Linked DNA regions of Homo sapiens. The protein of the gene in region 3 purifies or fractionates together with the protein of the main gene of each other region. This does not show direct contact. Each region holds a gene or a part of one and is shown on either strand. Other genes may lie near its edges.

Region 1 (7,032 bases), on a different chromosome or scaffold from region 3:
TTACGTATGGGGTGCATTGAGAGAACAAATAAAGAGCTCTGGCAGGGGGCTGGGAAAGGTTTCATAGAAGATGTGAAGTGTAAGCTGTTTTGAAAGCTGAGTGGGGTCTCACCAGCTGGATGAGGGTAGAAGATGGGGAGTAGAAGAGAGCATTCCAAGCAGATGAAATATAGTCAGTCCAGGGAGAGTGCTGGGAGCCTCCAGGGAGACTACAGGTTGAAAGCCTAAAGGGACCGTCTAAAGTTCACCAGGTGTGGGCTTCATCACTTGCTTATTGGTCAATGGACCACATGGAGGCACTTTCTGGACTCTGAGAACCTCTGTGATAGTGTAGAGACAGCAAGGCCCAAGATGACCCAACCTCCCTGTTTATTAAGCACTTATAGTTTGCTACAGTTTACAGGACACCTTGGGGAGAAAAAAGTATACAACACACACACACCCACATACTCATAATACAAATATATAAAACACACAATTCACACTTGTATTTTATACAGATTACCCACCTATAAGCCCAAATATCTGTTCTTCAGAAACTGTCAGAGACTTTAAACTCTCCACTCCTCAATACTTACAACACTAAGGATGTGAGATATACTTAGGGAGACTGTCTAAAAGCTAAGCAGTACATCTATTCTAGAGGAAGATTTCAAACTTTCAAACCTACAGGCATGGAACTCTTTTTGTAAGGCAACCTTACCCTGGACCCCAATACATAAAATAAAAGCTCTTCTTTTAAGCAAAGGTAGGTAGAGTTCTGCTTTGGGGCCACTGAGACATGCCTGGGCACCTAGGCCTCAAAGGAGCACAAGGATCAAAATATGTTAAGCTTGGAAAAAGTCAGGACACCGATGAGCTACATACTCAAACCACATAGTTTTGTTCCTTCATACTATTACTTTTGTTGTGAATTGTGTTTTGGTGAGAAGCATGAATTTGCATTGAGATAAACTGTAAGAACAGCATATAAATACTCAGTGCTGGAAGGATGTTTGATATTCAAGACATGGTCACATTCAGCATACAGAGTCTGCTCTACAGTTGATGATGAAGAGTAGTGCTTCTCTGGAATAATGGGTTTGTTTTTATACTAGGACACTCTAAACCATGTAGCTGATTATGTTTCCCTCTTGGCAAAGGTTGCTAGGAAGCTCAAAGACAACATTTTGGCCCCAACTCTTGCAGGTGTCCAAGAACTTAATACTTACCCTAGCTTCCTCTTATTTTTCCCTCACCCTTGCTTTCCCTTTGCTCCAATTTTCTCACTTACTTATTTATTTTTATTGTTGTATTGTGACCATTTTTATAAGATATCTCAAGTCCTTTGTGGAAGGAACTGGTAAAAAAAAAGAGTTTATAAATTTAAAATTTATTTACACATTCAATATAACAAAATATATACATATCAAAAATGATGAATTATCTAAAACTCACAGCACAAAGCCCATATGTACCTCATACAAATATAAAACAATACACACAGATCACATAGGTACATAATTCACAATCACAACACTAATGTCATAAATACAAACACACTCGTACCCTGTTTACCCCACTCTCATGAGCATGTGTACAAATGCACACATGCACATACATGTGTCATGTACATACCAAGCTGCTCTGCAAGGAGCTGGCCCTTCTCAGTGGGAACAACCCTCTCTTCCTCCATGTCACACTTGTTCCCCACCAGAATAACTTGTGCATTGTCCCAGGAGTAGGTCTTGATCTGAGTAGCCCTAAAATGAGATAGAAAGAGATATGTTAATCATATTCCTATAGACTGAATGTCTGTGTCCCCACCTCCAAATTTACATGTTGAAGCCTAATCCCCAATGTAATGGTATTTGGAGGTGGAGTCTTCGGGATGTAATTATGTCAATGAGGCTAGAGTCCTAATAAATGTGTCCATATAAGAAGAGAAAGAGGCTAGAGCCCTCTTTCTCTCTTGGCCATGGGAGGATACAACAAGAAGCTGGCTGTCTCCAGATACTGGAGCTGCTGGCACCTTGATCTTGGACTTCCTAGCTCCAGAACTGTGAGAAAGAAATGTCCGTTATTTAAGCTACCAAGTCTATAGTATTCTTGTTATAGCAGCCCAAACTGACCAAGACACATACCCTCCTATGACAAAAAGAAAACTGTGAAGTGTGAAGAAATGGTTTCTCTTCCACAGGACTAGCAACATCCAAGTTATTGCCAATTAATTCAGCTGAGGACAGACAGATACCTGTCCCTGCTGGCTGTCACAGATGCTGACTCCTAAGCCCTAGCTGCAAACCTCATCCATCTTTTTGAAGTCCACCTCTACCATATCTGGCCATCCCTCTCCTCACTGGGCAGAGAGGTCTTTCTAAAACAGGTATTTGATCACAATGAATCTTTTCTTAAAAGCCTTCTCTGGCCCCCAGCTAGCTATGTGATCAAGTCCAGATTCCTCAGTTCAAGATCACTCATGCTGTGTCTCTCCAGCCTCATTACCCATTCTCCTGCCTCCCTAACCTTTTTACTCATTCCCCAAAAGCTCTTCCATGGCTTGTGCTTTTGCCTACACTGGGAAGTCCTTCCCCACAACTAACTCATCCTCCAGGGCCCAGTGCTGATCCCACAACACCTTGAGGGGAGCCTCTTCAAGCTTCTCCTAGATCCACTTAGCCTCCACCTCCTCCTATGTGATTCATAAACCTTCCCTGAAGCCTCGGATTATGATTATTTGCAGGAACCAAAATGTCAGCAGTGGTTACCTTCATATAAGATGATTATAAGACTTTTAAAAAATACTTTTTGGCCGGGTGCGCTGGCCCACGCCTGTAATCCCAGCACTTTGTGAGGCCGAGGTGGGCGGACCACGAGGTCAGGAGATCGAGACCATCCTAGCTAACATGGTGAAACCCCGTCTCCACTAAAAATTAAAAAAAAAAAATTAGCTGGGCATGGTGGCAGGCGTCTGTAGTCCCAGCTACTCAGGAAGCTGAGGCAGGAGAATGGCGTGAACCCGGGAGGTGGAGCTTGCAGTGAGCCAAGATCGCATCACTACACTCCAGCCTGGGTGACAGAGCGAGACTCCATCTCAAAAAAAAAAAAAAAAAAAAAAACCTTTTCAAATTTCTGTACTTTTCACATTTTTAAAAGTGAGCATGTATTACTTCTTTAATTAAAAACAAAATTTTAAGAGGAAATAAAAAAGGACTCTCTTATATTATGAAGACATCTTTTTGTGGAGATGGGCCTAACATTCCCCAAAGACCCCATCAGGTAGAAATGATTACTTCCTCTTTTGGTCTCCTGCACGTTCACCATGACACCTATTACACTTGGCTGAATTTGTCTCTCTCCCTGAGGGCAAGGACCGGCCTATTCATCTTTGGGATGCCAATACCCAGCACAGAACACACAGCGAAGAAGGTGTCAGTGAATGCTGATAAATGAACGAGCCAGTGAATGGTCAGTCCTGAAGCAGATCTTGAATCTGACTCTACCCTGACACTGACAACCTAACTCAACCCTAACTGCAACCTGAACCTACTACTGACCCTGCTCTTAAAGTTGATCTTACCACCAACCTTCTCATTTATGGTGAGAAGCCATTCCCTCAAAGGATGGAATTCACTCAACCACCACTTCTTGTGGGCCCACAGGAAACCAGGCCCCATTCTGGGCACTGGGGCTTGGATGGCAGGTAGGGGTGAGACTGAGACCAAGTTACCCACAGACAAAACTCAAAGGCCAGGGCTTGGGAGAGATAGACCCTCAGTCTTCAGACTCAAGGCAGGTAACTGGGGCCAGCTCTCCTTATCTCCCATGCTACTCTTTCTTTCATCTTCCTCCCTTCTCCCACCCCATTTCCTCTCAGCTCCCAGGTTAGCAACAAACTCAGGTTATTCTTGGAGGAATCGTCACCAGGTGTTAAAGTCACCGTGTTCCTGAGGCAGAATGAACAGAGACTGAGGGAGGAAGGGAAGGGGGTCAAGGCCAACAGGGAAATGGGCAGCGTGGAGACACTTCAGGGGAGATGTGATGAGAGAGAAGAGGAGGAGCAGGGAGAGGGGAGGAAGGGAGGAAAATGATGAGTGGAGAGAGTAAAGGGAAGGGGAAGAGAACAGAGGAAGGAGAGGAGAAAGACCCAAGGTAGAGGGAAGAAAGAGTTATTTAAAAGGAAGGGACAGAAAGGAGGAAGAAGAGGATAACCAGGAGGCAGAAAAGGAGAACACAGACCCCCAGGAATGACAGACATGCTGATGACACCCTGAACTGCTGGTCAGAACAGGGGAGTGCAGCAGGCAGCCCACAAGGTCACTCTCAGCTCAAGCTGTGTATGTGAAGCCAACACAATTATGACAACTGCTCCCTGGGAGAAGCGAAGTCCTCGAAGGTCACCATTAGGCAAAAGGGAGAAGGAGACAAGCCCAGCACTGGCCAGCACTGCTGCTGTGTGCCTGGTCTGCTCAGCCTCTCCGATTCTGAAGGACAGCCACCACACAGATGTCCCACCTTCCCCCATCCTCATCTGAGCAGGGACACTGGGTCCTGGCCCTCCCTCTCATGTGTCCTTCCCCTCAGGCTCCCTTCTCCTGGGAATCGTGCCCCAGGAAGAAAGCTATAAGTTGCTCAGAGGTTGCAACTCTGGGGTGCTGTACTGATTTCCATTGCATATTGAGCCTTGATGAACTTGGACTGTATGTGCTCCTGGACACCTGGCTCAGCCCAGGGATAAACTTTAAGTGCTATGTGGATTCACTCTCCACTGGAGCTACAGTAATCTTCCTGAAACACAAATGTGAACCTGTTGGTTTCTAATTCATACGTCATCACCTATGGGACAGAATCCAAACTCCTTATAGCAGCACACAAAACCCTTCATGACCTATGCCCTTCAACACTCGCACCTACCTTCTCACCTTTGCACATCTGTACTCATTTTCTGGAACATCCTTATTCATTTGTCCCTCGGGCTAACTCCTGTTCATCTTACAAAATGCAGCATATGTGTCAGCAACTCCAGGGCACTTTCTCTGACTCCCTAAACTGGGTCAGAGAGCCCTCTGCTGGGTTCCCACAGCCCTGATGCCTCGCTTCATCACTGCACCTAGCACACATTTTCTTTTCTTTTCTTTCTTTTTTTTTTTTTAAGATAGAGTCTCACTCTGTTGCCCAGGCTGGAGTGCAGTGGTGTGATCTCAGCTCACTGCAACCTCCGCCTCCCAGGTTCAAGCAATTCTCCTGCCTTAGCCTCCTGAGTAGCTGGGATTATAGGCACGTGCCACCACGCCTGGCTAATTTTTGTATTTTTAGTAGAGACGGGGTTTCACCATGTTGGCTAGGCTGGTCTCAAACTCCTGACCTCGGGTGATCTGGCTGCCTCGGCCTCCCAAAGTGCTGGGATTACAGGCGTGAGCCACTGCACCCGGCCTATCACATGATATTTTCATTCCTGCTTATGGATCTGTCTTCTGCTCTCGTCTGTAAACTCCTGAGGCCAGTAACCATGTCTGATTCATCTGGGCTTCCCCAGCACACAATACAGGACCTAGCACATGTTAGGTTTTAATGAACAGTTTGTTAAATGAATGAATGAATATGGGTCTCATACCAGTCTTGGACAGCATTGAAGGACTCTTCATTGGTGATGTCATACATCAGAATGAAGCCCATGGCCCCACGGTAATAGGCTGTTGTGATGGTCCGGTACCGCTCCTGCCCAGCTGTGTCCTGGGCAGGAAAAGAAAAGAAACAATCTCTTAGAAAGTCTGCTTTGGTTCCTAAAAAGTCCCCAGGACAATTAACTAATAACCCAAGACATTTTTTTTTTTTGAGATGGAGTTTTGCTCTTGTTGCCCAGGCTGGAGTGCCATGGCGCGATCTCAGCTCACTGCAACCTCTGCCTCCTAGGTTCAAGTGATTCTCCTGCCTCAGCTTCCCGAGTGGCTGGGATTACAAGCATGCACCACCATGCCCAGCTAATTTTGTATTTTTAGTAGAGACAGGGTTTCTCCATGTTGGTCAGGCAGGTCTCGAACTCCTGACCTCAGGTGATCCACCCGCCTCGGCCTCCCAAAGTGCTGGGATTACAGGAGTGAGCCACCGCGCCCAACCCAAGGCATATTTAAGGAGCATCTATTATGTGTCTTGTATTGTGCTTGCTGACTAGATTAAAATGATTTTTTAAATCTCATAGAATTTAATAAGAATAATTAAAATCCTAAAGGAAAAGTGGACAAGAGGCATGAACAAGCACATAAGAAATGTTGAGTGGGTAATTATTACATAAAAAGTTTTAACCTTATTTTTGTTTCTTTTTTTTTTTTTTTTTTTTTTTTAAGACAAAGCCTTACTCTGTTGCCCAGGCTGAGAGCCCTGGCACAATCATAGCTCACTGCAAGTTTGAATTTCTGGGCTGAAGCAATGCTCCCACCTCAGTCTCCGAGTAGCTGGGATTAAGGTTTTGTGCCACTGTGCCCAGCCCCTTATTTTTAATAATAATTCCCATGATTGATAAGCATGCAGTGAAATATACAAATTCACATCTTGCTTGTGGGAGTGGAACTTGGTTTAGCCTTTCTGGGAATCAATTTGGAAGTCTTAAGAGCATTAAAAATGTTCATACTCTTTGACCCAGAAATATTCCTTCTGGGAATTTTTCCCACAAAATTAGAAAAATTTTCCCTATAAAAATAGAAAATCAGACAAATATGTATGTACAAAAACACATTTGTTAAAACTTTATCTAGACAGTGAAAACATATCATCAACTTATATATTCAACAATAGGAGAATGGTTAAAATGTAAGAATTTTTATGTAAGTTCATGTATGTAAGAATATTTAACGATATGAGACAATACTTGTATGTGTGATGTATTAGTTTTATAACTATATGTGCACAGAAAAAAATAGAAGAAACACATCAAAAGGTTAATAGAGATTTTCTCTGAATAAGAGACAAGAATTACTGAGATTTTGATTTTCTTCATGTAATTTTTTTTTTTTTTTTGAGACAGGGTCTCACTGTGTGGCCCAGGCTGGAGTGCAG
Region 2 (5,079 bases), on a different chromosome or scaffold from region 3:
CACAAGTGGTCTCAACACATAACAGAAAGAATGGACATTTTCTGGCCAGGCACGGTGGCTCACGCCTGTAATCCCAGCACTCTGGGAGACCGAGACGGGTGGATCACCTGAGGTCAGGAGTTCAAGACCAGCCTGGCCAACATGGTGAAACCCCGTCTCTACTTAAAAAAAAAAAAAAAAATACCAAAAAAAAAAAAAAAAAATTTAGCCGGGTAAGGTGGCAGGTGCCTGTAATCCCAGCTACTTGGGAGGCTAAGGCAGGAGAATTGCTTGAACCCAGGTGGCGAAGGTTGCAGTGAGCCGAGTTCACACCATTGCACTCCAGCCTGGGTGATAAGAGCAAAACTCTGTCTCAAAAAAAAAAAAAAAGAATGGACATTTTTTAAAAACCCACTATGTCTATAGCTCAGTCCCAGCCCTGAACAACCACATTCAACCAGCAAAAAATTCTTCGCGATGAAAAGATTTACCTCAAAGAATAAATAACATTAAATCGAGAATTCATAAGCAGTCAGGAGATTTGAGATTTTTATTGAGAAAATAGCTATTTTGACATTATATCCAGTTTCTCATTTATCAGAATAAATTCTTTACAATATTGATCACCATCACCACTTTAGTGTATTTGTACATAGTCTCTGAGTAAAATATATTCACACTCGGCAAGGCTAGAATATTGAAATTATGGCCAACATTGCTTACTTTAAGATTGTTTACTTTATAAAGAAGCTAGAGTAGTTGTGCAACTAGAACAGATGTTTTTAAAATGTTTGCCATTCAAAGATAGGCTTGGTGGGACAAAACTAATATGCATACTACATACATATATTTCTTGTCTTCTTTACTGTCAATCTTTCAGAACAGTAACATGACATTACAAACACCTCAAATTCCCACTTCAAAATGAACAGAAAAATGGAAAAACATTATTTCCCATTTCATAAAATTAAAAATCAAGTCAGAAGAGAAGTAAAACTCATTTTTATGCATTTAACTTAAAAGCTTGAATACACGACTCCTCCTAGAGAGAAGGAAGCCAGAACTTCAGAAGTAGCCAGTGGTCCAAAGAATAAATGGCCCCATGACCTTCTCTATGGTTCATGACTTACTGAGGGCTGATGCAAACTCTGGCAAGTTATTTTTCATGATTTCCAAGGATCTGGGATATGTAAACGAAATGATTAAAAGACATTTCTCTGAATTTGCAAGAAGACGACTGAAGAATCAGAACAAAGATCCAACGGCCTTTCACGTGGCTACATGTTCACCATTACACCACAACTCAAAACCCACAGGCGAGCTTTCTCTCAAATACACATTCAAAATGGTGTTCCAAATAATCCAATTGTATACATTGCAAAGACACACAAAATGCCTCCTTACACACGATTAGTAATCTGGTTTTAGACTCTGAAGTGATACCAAACATATTTAGCTAACCCTCTCAAAATTGCAGGCCTAGTGAGGTTTAAATGTTTTAGGATATAGAATCTGCTTAGAATTTAGTGAAAACTATGAACCGTAGACTGTCTTCGGTAATGAACAAAACTGGAAAATATTAAACTTCCTTTGCTTTGTCACTGAGCAACTATAAGCTTTCTATGATGTATGTATCATACTAGCTTGTATGTGACTTTAGTGTCATAAACACCCATTGCCTTTTTGGCACTTTTAAAGTACAGCCAGAAAAGGTTTGGAAAATTGTTCTGGAAATACAAGTTGGTTCCCTCTGTCTCATGGATGCTTAGGAACTGGGTAGTCTGCTGAAACCACCAGTTCAGCAGACCCTTGTACAGCTGTTCCCGGCCAACTGGGATCCTAAGGAAACAGGCTGGAAGAGCCAGGGGCCTCCCTCACAAATGCCTAAATAACCAACATATCTATGCCGACAGCCATCCCTCTCTCAATGCCATGGTCCAAGGGAGTCTTGACCTGTCTCTTCCCATTTTACTACCACTGGCTAGAGGGGCACCCAACAACAAGAAACCTTTGTAATGAGTATGAACTAGCAAAAACACTGTAGGGCAGCATTTCCTTAGGTGTATCTCTCAGAACATAAATCCCACAAGATACCTACTTTTAAAAAAATCTGGCCGGGGACAGTGGCTCATACCTATAATTCCAGCACTGTGGGAGGGTGAGGCGGGCAGAATCACCTGAGGTCAGGAGTTCAAAATCAGCCTGGTCAACATGGTGAAACCCCATCTCTACTAAAAATACAAAAATTAGCTGGGCGTGGTGGCAGGTGCCTGTAATCCCAGTAAATTGGGAGGCTGAGGCAGGAGAATCGCTTGAACCTGGGAGGCGGAGGTTGTAGTGAGCCGAGATCGTGCCACTGCACTCCAGCCTGGGTGACAAGACCAAGACTCCGTCTCAAGAAAACAAAAACAAGAAATCCATATTAAAATAAATTAGGGAAATGATGTATAAAATAGAGGTGCTTCTTGGAGATTTAAAATGCACATTAGCGTATCAAAGGTCTGAAAGGCCAACAGTAACTCAACTTTGTCTAACCCACTATTTCCCAAACTTACTTGGCCACAGAACCCTCTATTCTCCTAACAATATATTCTGACAAAACACTCCTTCAGGAACTGCTTCACCCAGAACCAAACAGGTGAGTTTTAAAAAATATTATAGCATAATTTCAAATGATTAATAAGGATACAAAGAGACTTATTTTCCTGTCTTTTGTTATTTTGTCTACTTATTTTGTTCTGAATAATCTTCTATCACATTTCCCCTTCTATTCACAAACCTTCAACTCGAGTTACCCTTTCTGATACCTTTGTTCAAGAATGTTAATTCTTATCAGAAATCCATGGCACACTAGTCTGGAAAAAAATAATTTTGTGTCTTTTTAAATTCCTAGAGTACCTCTCCACTTCAATCACAATTTAAGTCCAGGGCAGGTATCCTGGGCTCCTAGCAAACACTACACCCCAACAAGAGTTTGGGAGCCAAATTATTTTGCAAACCCTTAAGAACACAAACTAAAACTAATTTATCCTTATATCTCTGCAAAAATTAGCATTTTGAACATCCAACGAAACTTCAAGTTTGAGGATAATGGGCTTACTGACCTGACCTTTGATTTCACGTAACTAACAACAAATTTCTTTAAAATCTGGTTAAGAAATATGAAAATATTGAAAAGTAAACATAAATTCCACAAAGCTGAATGGCAGCAAAAAATATTTCTTAACATCAAGAACATATACAAAAGATGATCATTACCACCCAAATTATCTCTGTTGCTCAGGATTTCAGTTATAAAAATAGCCAAATCAAGACAAAGACAATTACAGCTTAAAACGAAAAGCTACACCTTCTTCATTAAAGGTGAGCATCTTGTCACACTGTGCATATGGAGAGAGAACAAGTACAAGGCACGGGAGAACTACCATGTCAAGGGACAGAGCTTTTTCAAAATATTTTATCCTCAGAAGTAAACCCCACTACCATAGAAAGAAAAAAATATAATTAGATATTTTAAATCACAGCATTTTTGACTTCCTAGGGAAAAGGAGTTTTTGGTTTTAGGGTTTTTTTTTTCTTTTCTGGTAAGGCAAAATAGATCTTTAGATATCATTTGTTACAAACATGAGTTTTTCTTAAGAATGAAATAAAAATTCTATTTAACTTCTATCATATATTTATTCAACTAAGTTGAATACTATGTTTAGAAAATTAAAGTTTTAAATCATGGTTTATATATAGATAATGATACATTTAATCTATGAATTTACTTTAAAACCACTTTTATTTTGAAATACTTAAGACTCACAAGAAGTTATAAAAATAGTTCAGAGAGATCCCAGGTACCCACTGCTTAGCTTCCTTTCTTTACATGTAAGCATTTATATCTAGGTTTTAAAAGGGTTGAAGTTTTTGACAGTTGATGAAAAACTGTCAAAAAATTGTAACAAGCCTGGTAAATGCATATTTTTGGAGGAGGTTCTAAGGAAACACTACCAAGTTCAAGTACCACTTTTATCACATGCAGCTGCCTTAACCAACAGGTTTTCTAAGATACTATCCCCCTTACCTGTTTCTGCCTCTTTCAATGGTGTTTTTCCATTTTTACAGACTTCTGAAAATTTTAGCTTTGATTGAAATAAGCTTCCCCATTCCTTCATGTTAATATATCTAGCAATATTGAATAGAAATTATAAATGGAAATAAAAATGCTTGCTTTTATAAAATCTCCAGTCTCGCAGCACCCCCAATATAATACAAACAAACTTAAGTTGAAATTTGGTTTGTTAATGCCCACCTTGTGTGGTCAAAACACAGTTTTGAAGGAATGACCACCTTCAATGTTCTTTACAGCTTCTTTAGTGTTACTTAAAAAAAAAAAAAAAATCAATCTGATGGATGATTGATGGTAGTTTGTTCATGGAAGATCTTCATCTTATGGGAATTATCTAGTTTTTCTAATCATATACTACCAACAAAAATAAACACAAGCATGTTCCCTTTAATCATATTATCCTCCACCATTACTTCCAAAAGGCATTGGCTCACAGTATTCTGTTTAAGATTGTGGACCATTTATCCCAATGAACTCACTCAAACTTTATCTAAAACATATCATGACAGGCTGGTCCAACAGTCTGTTCAGTCTGAAAAAATGTTCTGTGCTCTGTTCAGATTGACAAAATGTTCTTTTTGGCCGGGCGCAGTGGCTCACGCCTGTAATCCCAGCACTTTGGGAGGCCGAGGCAGGTGAATCACTTGAGGTCAGGAGTTCAAGACCAGCCTGAGCAACATGGTGAAACCCCGTCTCGACTAAAAAAAAAACAAAATTAGCTGGGCATGGTGGCACATGCCTGTAATCCCAGCTACTTGGGAGGCTGAGACAGGAGACTTGCTTGAACCCAGGAGGTAGAGGTTGCAGTGAGCCGAGACTGCGCTACTGCACTCCAGCCTGGGCAACAAGAGTGAAACTCTGTCTCAAAAAAAAAAAAAAGTTCTTTTCTAAGAGCTTCCTGTATGTGTGGCTGCTCCCTAAAGTACTTTGTGCTCAGTTACAGCTTCCTGTCATCTCATTTACTTATACATAAATAGCTCAACTAA
Region 3 (7,032 bases):
TAAGTAAACTAACATATAAAACTATTATGGTACCAGGCATAGAATAAACTTCAGCTAATTTATTTGTTTCAGGAATCCAAATAACCATTTTGCCTTAGACTTTTAAGGGCAAATATTTACATAATTAGGAAAACGCTAAGCAAAATCATAAAACAAGAAGAACATCCTGTGTCTTCTCACTTAACCTTCAATTAATCTTTTCTCCCTTTCTGACTCTGATGACTCTCCCAGTCCCCTCCCATTAGTGCTTTCATGCCTGTCCAGACTGCTCTCCACATGTCCTTGCCCCTCTCTCCACAGCACCTCACCTAGTAAAACTTCCCTCAAATACGCCTCAGGCTCTGGAACTACCTTTCCACTCTACCATACACAGCTTACCTGCCTGGAACGCCCCTGGAAGTCCCACTGGCTAGCTTTCTCATAGCTGAATTCTCTCCAGAACACAAATTGCTAATAATGGCTATATGTATGATCACGTTCCTTCTCTCAGGAGTGTGTCCATTTTAAGAGGGGTATGCCGTGTCTTGACCCCAAAGGTATGACTATATTGATGTCATTCCAGATAAGCTGGCACTGGGGCAATACTCTAGGGGCAATGGCATCATCTTTGCATTCCTTGAACGTATTCACAGGGTTTGTGCTTTAAAGCTGGACACTTATATATCCACTAAAGAAAGTCTTGACCTCACATTCACTGTACAATAAAGCATGCCTCTACCCACTATTTCAGTACGTTAAATCAGACAACTTCAGCATTTAGAGGCTCCAAAGTGTACTGCATGACTGAAATCTGTAGCATGAAGATCACAGCTGCAATCACTTCTAATGCTTTAAAGATTTGGAATCTTCAACTGAACAAATGGCAGTTATTTAACATGTTTAAATAATTGTAGCTTTTGGTCAGTAAAATCTATCTTTCTAAGACTATATAAGCAATATTTATTCTATAATTGTGCTTTCCATTTTAAAAGTTTTTCCAAGACAAAGATAATTCTTCATGCAGCTAAGAGCTGGTGTTTAGGAGAGTTTACACATAACAGAAGTTTCTCATTAATATTTAAGTTTTCTTAGATCTGTAGACAAGGCAGAAATTTCTAGAGAAATTATGAAAATATGACATTTTTTGTTACCGCTGCAGAAAATACTATAGCTAACCACATGGGTTTTACTCATTTCAGAATTAGGCAAAATCACAGTGTTGTAAGCAAGACAAAAAGCAAGTGGGGTTCTCTACTTGTTGCGTAAATTTTTTAAAGTATAATGTAATAAAACTTAATTCAATACCTTTGAACATTGTATATTTGAAAAACACTAGTAGTAAATGGCATTTCTGTGGTTGTCATCAAATTTGTCTCATTGTAGGTGCTGTTACAGCCTTGGATATCAAGGTGCAATGGCAATGTTCTCTCAGGAAGTGGAGGATATATTTGAGCTCCAATTCCAACCCATAGAGAAATGGCAAATCCAGCCATCAGACCAACAAGTGCTCCCTGTAAAACAAGAATGCCTTTAAAAGAAAAATAATACAATTTGCTTTGATGTCAAAATTAATATTAGAAAGCCAAGTTCAACATGGCACGAAATTATAAAACTCACAAGGGCAGAAACATTCAACGCTCTCTCCTCCCAAGATAGTGCTCAGCCCATAAAAATCTATTGAATAAATGAACAAGTGAATAAATGAATGAAAGGTATTGAGGCAGGGAGAGAAAAAGGAGTGAGAAAGGCCACTTTTAAGGAAGGCAGATAATCTGCTGGTGAAAAACCTGGACATGGTTTAAAAAAAAAAAAGATACTGTTTATGGCAGGAAGAATAGTATGTTATTCTTCCGTTACCGCCCCCAGAAAAGGACATGTTAGCTTAGTCAGCTACAGCTCTTCCGGAGGAAATACACGCTGGCAACAAATGCCAAATATCAAAAGTTGATTTTTAAATACATTTTTCTAATACTTAACAAACTAATGCATTTCATCACGCAAAGAATCTAATCCAAGCTTCAACATTCTGAGGTGGACACAAACAAATCTCTTTCATTGTGATTAATTCCTACAAAAGCAGCTTTTCATATGACATTTCATTGAGGATAATAAATAATAACCACAATAGTCCTTATTAATATCTGCCTTACCAATTCCTAATGCCTTATAAGGAAAATAGAATTCCAAATGTGAAGTCAGAGTTCTATGGCTATTCTATATCTGAAGCGACTGCACATACATTATCAGTTTTTCCTGAACTACATCTTATAGCCAGACTGAACCAGTGGACTTTCTTCTGGGTTTCAGAGAAATAATTTCTAGCTCATTTATTCCAAACAAAAGTTAGCACTTCTAAGCACAGATATGTCTAGGTAGAAGGACAGAGATATTACGTCTTTCTGGAAAATATTCCCAATTATGATCACCCCTTTGGGGCTAAATCATGTTGTGGGAGCTACAGCTTTAAATGTCAGGAGTAGAAAATTCCTGGCCAAGGTGGTAAGATTGTGTTCCTTCTCTTTGCTGTGCTATGGCTATTCACAGAAATCCTAAGTTTTCTGCCCTTAAATCTCTCATCTCTGAGCCTATTGATCTCTTTTAAATCCTAGCTATTAATTTTTGAGAAGGGCAAGTAGGTACGTGCATAAAAATGTTGCTCCTTTAGTTATATTATGAATATTTAAAATTGCCCTATATGGTTCTGGAAGTTTCCATTGAGCTTCACACATTTAGGGTCCCCATACATAGTACTTCCTTGTACACTCCACCAAAGTCAACAGAAATAATTTAAGTCATCAAGACAAGTAGCTAATGACAAATCTCAAAGGAACCAACTGAGAAAAAAGTGTAGAGCTGCTAGTATAGTTCAAAAAGTAATCCTCAAGCATATTCATTCTTTGTACTTACAATTGAGTTGGCAAAGGGAACCAAAATGCCCAAAGCGAACAGGCCCATAAGTGGTCCACCAACCATACCAAATACGCTGAGTGCTGCCTACAAAAATAATACAACGTCAGCAATTAGCAATCTCAAATCGAAACTCAAATATTTCAAAGTCATTTCATCAGGATAATGACTTAAAGTATTCGGCCTCCTTCTGAAAATCATAGTTTCAGTCATGATAGCCTTATCACTGGAAAAGAAGTCATTAGAACTTACAAGTTTCTGCATCTCAGTCTCAAGGATCCATCTGTTTCTGCAAGTAGCCTCAAAAAAGGCCACACAACACAAAGAAGATAGAGAGGTCTGCGACAATGGTAGTGCCTATGTGAATGTATAAATCATGAATGATACCTCTCCTCTTAGCATTGCTCTTGCAGGTGTTTATAAATCACAGCACTCCTTTGTGCTTTGATAATCTCAAAATCCTCTCATAACGGTGGACGAGTACTGCTATGTGACCAGAGAGGAGGATGAAACCCATTTGCCATTCCTGATTTGATTCCCTAAGGATGAAACTAGAATGAGAAATACGATTTTAAAAAGACTGATCAAATCATGTAGAAATAGATTTAAAATCTAATTAGATAACTGCAACCTTTGCTTTGATGTAGAGATATCAAATCCATGATAGTAAAAAAGATTTACAGTGCAAACATCGCATGAGGCAAAGCAACTAAATGAAGCTTCCAAGAGATATACGTTCCCAATAATCTAATGCCCAGTTCTTAAGAATGGACACAACCATAAAAGAAGAGCAGGGAATCACTGGTTTGTCCAGAGAGTAAAGGGGTTTAATAGAGCAGAATGAATGAATCAAAGAGAAAATACCAAGTCAGGGAAATATTAGAGGAAATAGTGCTTCTTGTTGTCGTTGTTGTTTTAAATAGGCCTACTTCATGGAAGAAGAAAAGGATGTGGTACTGAGTAGAGAGGAGAACTAGTGTTTAAAAGGATGCGGACTCAAGGATGTGATCCTGAGTCAGTTTACACACAGTCCAGTCAGAAGGGAGATAGACTTCACTGCAAGACGTCATATGACCCACAAAGCAAGTGATGACTGTGTGATCTGTGAGCAGTTTTGGAGACATAACAAAGACACCCAAAAAAGATTACAAGAGGAAATAAGACCTTGGCTAGAGATGAAGCAAGGATGAACTGGCTTGGAGTTATGATGACTTTGCTAGAACATGTCATTGTATATAATCAGGCCATAGCTGATATATGGAAAAAGGGGAATCAACCACAATAAGAGCTCCAGGCACTAATGCAGACTATGAAGAAAGCAAATTCTGTATGACTGGCTGTGGTTTAGGAGTGCTGGGCAGGCTTGGAGCTTCTGGATCTAATTCATTCATTCATATAATCAGGGATGGGGTCAAACTATTTTACAACTGCTATGTCCTAAACAACAACCAACCAGAATGGCCCCAAGCCTTAGGACTGAAGAAAGATCCTGGAGGACCCCTGCTGTGCCAGTACTAGCCTTTAAGTTTCTAGGTCAAGGGGAGGTCCAGGATCCCAGAGGAGCAGCCCAAGTGGCCAAGGAAATTTCAGGGAGCACTTGGGGTCATCAGATAATAGGATATTTATGAGCCTAACTACATTATTAGTTAATATTCAAGCTAAAGTTGTTAATGTCTTGCTTTGTCCTGGGCACTGCAGTAGGAACCAGATATTTGATACAGGATTGAACAACGAAGTCATCTTCCCCACCTTCATGAATTACAGGCTATTCAGTAAAACAGACACTAAATAAATAACTGTAATACAGTTTGATAATGGAGATGATAAAGAAAGTACAAGGTGCTTCTAGAAACATTTAGCAGAAGGGAATGCAAATGTATCCAGGTAATAGGAAAAGTCTCTTTAAATAAGTAATGTGTTAAAATGAAAACTGAAGAATAACTAAGGCTTAGGCAGTGGACGAGGTAGAGAGGAAGGTGTTGCAGGCAGAGGGAGAAGTCTATGCCAAGGCCTGCGTGTTGAAGACAGTGAGGTGCCCACAGGGTTCAGGAAGAAGACACTGTTGTAAAGATTGGTCTGTCCTCTCCAGGCCCACAGCTCCACAGGAACAGGAGGGAGCTTTCCAACACAAAAATGCTCTCTAATCAGAAGAGCAAACGCCACAGGAGGTGAAAGACCCTTCAGGTAAATAAACAAATTTTTTTTAATGAAGTATTTCTACTTCTGAGAAGATAAACATATGTTTCTCTATTCCTCCTACTAATAAAATTAAAAATCCTGACATTCCATATAAAATAAACATAAGAAGACTCTGAAAGGTGCAAAGAAGGCAGCCCGCTAGGGACCCTGGACCTGAAGAATGGTACAGGGTGAGTTCCCTAAGTTTTCTTTTTGCTTCATGTATCCCAGCCTGAGAACTGAAGAAGCCAGCCAGCCTGGAAATGGCAACAGACACAGGCAAAAAAACTTTAAAAAGATAAAAAGCCCTCACAAAATCCTGTTCTCTCTCTAGACACAGGGCCAGGAAAGGAGCAGCCTAGGAAGATAGAAAACTCTTAGACCCCAACCGCTCCATTCCATCCGAACACCACAGAATAATCTGTTCACCCCACCCACACCCATGCCAGCCTAGATTCCATCCCCCCAGACTGTCACCAGGCACCCTTTGCCTCCCTGCTGGCAATGACATGGGAGGCCTAGTGGAGAATCGGGACTTTCACCATGGCCCAGCAGTGACAAAGCCACCTCCTCCATGATGTCAGTGAATTCCACCCTGTGGTGCTCGCGTGTTTCGGGTGGTCCTAGTTAACCAGCTTCCCAGGGAAGCCTCTTCCCTTGAGTTCGCTTTGCATCATTGTTGAGTCTTGTACACCGTCTGATGCTCATGCATTTTATTCTGGCAGTGCTCTTACCAGAAGAATAGCAGGAGCAGGATGGTGTCGTGGGCCAGATTTAGTCACAGGTTAGATGACTGACAGACCAGGAGGGTTTTCATCTAGAGACCTTTCTCAGAGTTTAGGGGATCCTTCCTCCTTTCTTATACTTGTATTCAATCCAGGTCAGTTACCAGGTGTTTTGTTCACAAAGAGAGATTAAGCTATGCTTGTAAGGGTAAGCTTTGTTCCAAGGTTTGTGAAAATTGCATCGTGCTGAGGTGACCTGGTCTCCTGGAAATCTGGTTGGAAATCCCCGGCCAGGTTGCTTCATACTGCTAAGTTTGACAGATAGGACTGACCCTCTGAGTTGCTTGAGTGGCCTTATGCCTATCATTAATCTTATAGCCATAATATATCTCATTGTATACCACACTCCACCCCTGACCCTGAGGGGGTCAATAATTGAGAGGCTGCCCAAGTTTGAAAGTGCGCTCCATGGTCAGTCAAATCTTGAGAAATGGATCTTCTGTAGGACGGTGAGTAGGAGTTGGTGGCGCCCTTGGAAAAACCTGGAAATGAACTGTATCATCACAGAGAGGATACAGTAGATCTAGTGTCCAGCTGAGCAGTTAGGGGAGATCATGAGAATGGGGTTCGGCTGTGGCTTTGGGGCAGACTCGCCAATGATGGGGGAAGAGTGGAGGACAGGTAGCGACCAAGTCTGGACGGGAAGCAATGGATGTGTGGCAGGCCAATGAAGGCATGCCCAGCAGGCTGGAAGGTTAGCTGCTCAGTGGGTGGCCAAAATGTGGTGGAGGCTGTCAGTGACCTCAGTGCCAAGTAATTGGTGAATAGGTCTGGAGAAGCCACAGTTGGATGTGGAAAGTCAGGCCACCCGGAGTAGCAGCAAAAGAACACGGGCACACTGGGGCTTGGAAACACGATTACATGAGCAGGTGAAAGGAGTTGAATGGACTCAGTGGTAGCAGGCTTAGAGTTGCTTGATTACAGAGCAATGACAGGTGAAAATGGAACAGAAGGATAAGGAGGACACAGAACTAAGCAATTAGGTCTGGGGACACTGTGTGTGCTGAGGTGCTGTCAAAGATCCAAAATCGTGATCTTGAACACGGCCCGATGAAGCCAAAGTTCAAGGTGTTGTCCATTCCAGATGGCTGTCAGGCACAGCTGGGGCACCAAGTGTCTCTAGGAGGCACTGGCTGCAGGAACAGTGGTGGCCCAAGAGACCCCTAGGCAAATATACCAGTAA

What was found.
Region 1: the proteins of SLC5A8 (region 3) and RAB3B purify together in Homo sapiens (affinity purification with mass spectrometry; 2 studies listed by BioGRID and IntAct, with this or other methods). This does not show direct contact.
Region 2: the proteins of SLC5A8 (region 3) and MTX3 purify together in Homo sapiens (affinity purification with mass spectrometry; 2 studies listed by BioGRID and IntAct, with this or other methods). This does not show direct contact.

The regions. Positions count from the first base shown.
Region 1 is NC_000001.11:51,931,701-51,938,732, forward strand, and holds part of RAB3B (ras-related protein Rab-3B), read right to left. Parts: intron 5,713-7,032; coding exon 5,594-5,712; intron 1,743-5,593; coding exon 1,618-1,742; intron 1-1,617. UniProt on the Homo sapiens protein: The small GTPases Rab are key regulators of intracellular membrane trafficking, from the formation of transport vesicles to their fusion with membranes.
Region 2 is NC_000005.10:79,976,216-79,981,294, forward strand, and holds the end of MTX3 (metaxin-3), read right to left. Parts: 3' UTR 501-5,079; downstream 1-500.
Region 3 is NC_000012.12:101,165,210-101,172,241, forward strand, and holds part of SLC5A8 (sodium-coupled monocarboxylate transporter 1), read right to left. Parts: intron 2,974-7,032; coding exon 2,887-2,973; intron 1,654-2,886; coding exon of another isoform or gene 1,639-1,653; exon of another isoform or gene 1,500-1,638; intron 1,491-1,499; coding exon 1,285-1,490; intron 1-1,284. UniProt on the Homo sapiens protein: Acts as an electrogenic sodium (Na(+)) and chloride (Cl-)-dependent sodium-coupled solute transporter, including transport of monocarboxylates (short-chain fatty acids including L-lactate, D-lactate, pyruvate, acetate, propionate, valerate and butyrate), mocarboxylate drugs (nicotinate, benzoate, salicylate and 5-aminosalicylate) and ketone bodies (beta-D-hydroxybutyrate, acetoacetate and alpha-ketoisocaproate), with a Na(+):substrate stoichiometry of between 4:1 and 2:1.